Linked DNA regions of Homo sapiens: region 1 is linked to region 2. Evidence: fine-mapped expression QTL. A gene starts in region 2. The other region holds a variant in brackets. All regions are shown on one strand. Distances are between the middles of the regions. Region 1 overlaps FLI1 (Fli-1 proto-oncogene, ETS transcription factor). Region 2 holds the start of KCNJ1 (potassium inwardly rectifying channel subfamily J member 1).

The links. PIP is the estimated chance that this variant, and not a neighbour inherited with it, causes the effect. A credible set is the group of variants that fine-mapping cannot tell apart.
Region 1: its variant is the best candidate, but not a certain one, in a credible set for the expression of KCNJ1 in spleen (GTEx, PIP 0.78).

The regions. Positions count from the first base shown.
Region 1 is chr11:128,807,795-128,810,592 of GRCh38, reverse strand. It overlaps FLI1 (Fli-1 proto-oncogene, ETS transcription factor), which reads right to left. Exons shown (of 9, transcript NM_002017.5): 8 at 1,389-1,436; 9 at 1-134. Among named protein-coding and RNA genes, the nearest start is that of KCNJ1, 58 kb to the left of the region's middle. The variant C/G (reference allele first, on the strand shown) is at 1,277.
Region 2 is chr11:128,866,218-128,869,047 of GRCh38, reverse strand. It overlaps KCNJ1 (potassium inwardly rectifying channel subfamily J member 1), which reads left to right and starts at 1,752. Exons shown (of 3, transcript NM_153766.3): 1 at 1,752-1,875. LOC107984409 (a long non-coding RNA gene) reads right to left here. Exons shown (of 3, transcript XR_001748442.2): 3 at 1,869-2,298.

The sequences.
Region 1 (2,798 bases), 58 kb after region 2:
CCAGCGCCTGGCCACCTCATCGGGGTCCGTCATTTTGAACTCCCCGTTGGTCCCCTCCCAGGTGATACAGCTGGCGTTGGCGCTGTCGGAGAGCAGCTCCAGGAGGAATTGCCACAGCTGGATCTGCCCGCTTCCTGCACGCCGTGAGGCAAACGGGAGAGAACAGAACACCTCAGCCCAGAGAAGGCAGAACCCAGTTCCCTAAATGCAGGGAGCTTCTCATCCTTTTAAAGAAACCTTTTGTTTCCTTCGACATTGGGATCGACTTGACAAGCCCTTCTTATGTCATTGTTGATTTGCCTTTCTGCTTGCCTTGGAGATGGGTATAATAAGCGAGGTTAGATCCTAAGATGCTTTGCCCCAAGGCCTGGTAAATGGAATGTGGGAAGTGAGGTGCAAACTCTGCCCAGAACTAGCTGTGTGATCTTGGGTGAGCCATATCCCCCCTCAATCCCTTTGGCAAGGCTTTTGAATCTCTTCATCTAGAAAGGCCTGAATCACTGACTGATCTCTAATTAGTGGTCATGTCCCCCAGGGAATTCCCTGTCAGCAATAAAAAGTCAGGGGCAAGGCATGACTGTGGGAGTCATTGGGAGAAGCTGCGCCATGAGCTTTAGCTTTTGGATGGACAGGACCTGGATTGGCCCTTGGCAGGCCCAGAGCTTGGCTTGCAGCTCTAAGTTCTACAGAGAACTTGTGCAGAGAGAAAAATACCCAGAATATGCTGGGTGGCTGCTTTCTCCTCTGGCAGTAATGACCAGGCACTAAGGAATGGGTAGGCAGAGTCCCTGGGATGGGAAGGTGAGTGGGCCACACTGCGACAAGGGCCTGCTAGCTCCCAATCTCGATGGACTTGGTTTAGAAGGACCCTCTTGAGAGTTATTTTTGATACTAAATCTTTAAAGTACAAGGTCAAATTGACTATATCTGCAACTTTTCCAGGACACATCTCTTTTATAAGGCCAGATAACTTGGCAACACTTTCTAAAATCACAAATAAAACCCTTTGGAATATTTATGAACTTGTGCCTGGCATGCGGGAGACAACTGAGAGCTGAGTGGAGTTGTCTTCTTTTCTTTCTTGCCCATTTTCTCTGATTGAAACGCCTACCTACCTGTGCCACTTATTACTCATCTACACCTAAGTGCACATGTGCAGTGCTGATGTGTTTATTCCTAGAAGTATCCTCAGCTAACCAACCTTGACACCTCATAACAAGCCCTGACCTGTTGTTCACATGCTCCAGAAACAGACATTGAACATTTCAAGGAAAGA[C/G]GTGCATGTTACTCCCCACTCAGGTGTCTGGACTTAGGACAGAAGTCTCTGTGATTTCACAAAGCTACGAAACATTCTGGCAAAAAAGGCTTGCAGGCCAAGGTAAACTCACCAGGGTTGGCTAGGCGACTGCTGGTCGGGCCCAGGATCTGATACGGATCTAAGGAAATAAAAAAGGAAATTTGCTTCAGTGTTTTTAAAAAATATGACAACCGTACCAACCATAAGAAAACCATAAGGGTTTATACTTTTATTTCAAGATCACAGGAAAGACTGATTTCAGAAAACTTTACTGCTTTTATTTGCAGATCTCAAAGATCTTGATGACATTTGTGGTCTTCATCTCAATAATTACAGAAAGAACAAAGAATAGGAACAGGATTACTTTTTCTTATTTTGGCATCTAAAATGTGCAGATTATGTTGTCATTACCCAAAGCAAAACAAAGAAAACATTTGGAAAGGAACTGGATAATATTCAATGATACAACGGACAGCTGACTCCATGGGCTTAAAGCAGGTCTCATGGTTACTGGTCTTTAATAACTCTACCTAATACTAACAACATTATTAATCTGTTTTTTTTTTTAAATGTAGCATGAAAAACACATGCCTAGAAACCAAGCAGCCTGGGTTTTAGCAGCAGCTATGTGATAAACAAATAACTTGTTGGACAATTTCTGGGAATCAGTTTTCTCATCTGACAAATGAGTGGGTTGGGCTACTGGATTCCTCAGTTTTCTTCTAGTATAACACTCTGTGATTTGAAATGTCACACAAGCCAGAAATGTCAGCACAAACCAGAGTGTACATTTTAGCTATAAAATGACTATTCTTAAAATCTCACTTTCCTCAAAACGTATGTGTTTATTTAGCCATGAAAAAGTCTTTGCAATACTGGTTTAGGTGAGAGGTTTATCTCCTTTTTTGTTAGTTGAGGAAATCATGGTAGAGAGCTGGGTCTCGACTTGGCAAAATTGTCATGTATTTTGTAAAATTTTGCTATTTTTCAACTATAATTGCAGTTTTAAAAATATCACTATGATTTTTGGGTTTCTACTTAGAACCATAAATTACCTTCAAAAGTCCTTAAGCCCATTGAGACCATCTTTTCTCATCCACATCATTAATATGATAATTATTTTTGGCAGGTGATGACTAATGCATAATTTTGTTGTTATTGGACAGTCTTTAAAACTCTCTACATCTGACTTATGATCCACAGTCAGCAAATTTTTTCTTAACCTTCCAGGTGAAATGTCAGTTGATTTTCTCTTGCTCTGCCTTCTGTGGAGATGGGGAACAATGTTTGCCTACCCCAAAGCAAATGACTTGTTCAGAACTTCATCTCAGCTGCATCACATAAGAAGATAGAGAGAGGAGCTGGGGCTTGGGCACAGCAGCTGTCTTCAGATATGCAAAGGATTTCGGAGGAAGCAGGAGGAAGGCTTCTCCAGAAGGAAAAGCTTGAGTGGAAATTCCAGGAGGCAGACTTTGGGTCAGATAGTGGAACTGAGCCCAGC
Region 2 (2,830 bases):
TCTGTGGCCTGCTAGGAACCAGGCTGCACAGAAGGAGGTGAGTGGTAGGTGAGCAAAGCTTCATTTGTATTTTGACCACTCCCTATGGCTCACATTACTGCCTGAGCTCCGCTTCCTGTCAGATCAGCAGCGGCATTACATTCTCACAGGATCCTGAACCCTTTTGTGAACTGCGCATTCGAGGGATCTAGGCTGTGCGCTCCTTATGAGAATCTAACGCCTGATGATCTGTCACTGTCTCCCATCACCCCCAGATGGGACTGTCTAGTTGCAAGAAAACAAGCTCAGGGCTCCCACTGATTCGACATTATGGTGGTGTTGTATAATTATTTCATTATATATTAGAATATAATACATAATATATATTATATGATATATTAGAATATAATACGTAATATATGTTATATAATATTTAGAATATAATATGTAATATATGTTATATAATATTTAGAATATAATACGTAATATATGTTATATAATATATTAGAATATAATACGTAATATATGTTATATAATATATTAGAATATAATACGTAATATATGTTATATAATATATTAGAATATAATACGTAATATATGTTATATAATATATTAGAATATAATACGTAATATATATTATATAACATATTAGAATATAATACGTAATATATGTTATATAATATATTAGAATATAATACATAATATATATTATATTATATATTAGAATATAATACAGAATATATATTATATATTAGAATATAATACATAATATATATTATATATTAGAATATAATACAGAATATATATTATATATTAGAATATAATACAGAATATATGTTATATAATATATTAGAATATAATACAGAATATATGTTATATAATATATTAGAATATAATACAGAATATATGTTATAGAGTATATTAGAATATAATACATAATATATGTTATATAATATATTAGAATATAATACATAATATATATTATATTATATATTAGAATATAATACATAATGAAATAAGGAATATAATAGAATATTATTTCATAGAATAGAATAGAATATTATTTCCTTCTATAATAGAATAGAATATTTCATTATTTCATCCCATATTCATTATTTCATTCTATAATATTATAGAATAGAATAGAATATTATATAATGTAATAGAATATTATTTCATTATATATTAGAATATAATATATAATGAAATAAGGAATATAATAGAATATAATAGAAGTAAAGTAATTATTATAAGTAAACACAGTAGAAACAAAGTTCACAATAAATGTCATGTGTTTGAATCATCTCGAAACCATCCTCCCCCACCACCTCCCTGGTCCATGGAAAAAATGTCTCCCATGAAACTGGTCCCTGGTGCCAAAAAGGTTGGGGACTGCTGTTCTAGGGCCACTGAGTGATTCACAGGACAGGAGACATTTGTGAGGGGCTCCTTGGGGACCCCTACTTCCCTGCCCTGTAACATCCAGCCTCATGTGCGCACGTGTTCAACTTCATGCCTTTGACTTAGACACATCGACATGAGCATACCGGCCTTCTGGTTCCAAGCCAGGGTTCCATAAACAAATCCTTCTTAGTTAGCCTTGGTAGCTCAACACCTTTGGTATCTCACTCACTTAACTGCCACGCCTACTCTTGTTGGATCCGGTTATAAAGTAAACTATGTTCTTTGAGAACTGTTGCATACAGATGAGTTGGCAGCCGGTCTGAGCTGGCCCACAGACTCATAAAATCAACAGGGCCTCGGGTACCCTCACCTAGCATATCCAAACTCTTGCATCAAAGGTGCAGGGACTTGCTCACATCGAGAATCTGGTTGCTTTCTTGGAGACCAAGAAAATGAGTTTTTGTTTCTACATTTACTCCAGCAATCCATGAGGTAAGAGGAGAAACACCTCATTGTCTCTTTGTAGGAAAAAGAAGTTAATTCTTGTGAAAATTTAGACCTCTTTTCCCCGCCTCAAATCTAGGCAGACTTGTCTGTCCACTCCTGGGGGATAGATAGAAGCATGGTTTTAACTCACTCACTGGATGCTTTTGGTGTGCTGGTTACATGTGGATTATTAGCTGTGTGCTGCATCTTGCCTTCCCTGGGTCACTCCGCAGCCCTGGGGCTGGAGGGCAGTAAGAATCTTTGGTTGCATCATGCCTGATTCCAAAGTCTTCTTTTGGTGGCAGAGATGTATGTAGGGTTTTCATCTCTGGTGGCATCCTTTCAATTGTAGCAAGACCTTGCCTAGTAACACAACCTCTGCCAAGCCGTTTCCATCTTTAAGGTAGAGGATCAAGGTGCTAGTGGGGTCTATTATGGAAAACATATATCAGGAAAAGGCAAGAGTTAGCCAGACATTTTGATTACCTTCACCCAAATGTCTTTCTTTCATTTTCTGATGTAGGACTTTATAGGAATTTTGCACCATTCTGAATGGATACATTTGGATTTCTCAACATTTGTTCAGCTTCCTAATGACTGTTGTGACAATTGCTCTATACCAGTGAATGCCAACTGTTTATCTCTGCTCTGAACAGGTATGGAGCCCCTTCTCCCAATATCTGTATCTTACAGATTTGGTGCATAGACGCTTAAAAGGAGTTGGTCTTTCGCAACCAGCAATCTTTAGGAAAAATGATTGAATTTTTCTCCTTTTAGCTGGGCTTACAAAATGGAGCAAAACATAGTGATTGTGCTATGGACCTTTTATGGACAGGGACTTGGCAGAGCCACTCACTGGATGCTTTTGATCTGCTGGTTGTACCTGGATTATTAGTTGCGAGCTGCACGCTGCCTTCCCTGGGCCATTCCGTAGCCCTGGGGCTGGAGGGCAGTTAGAATC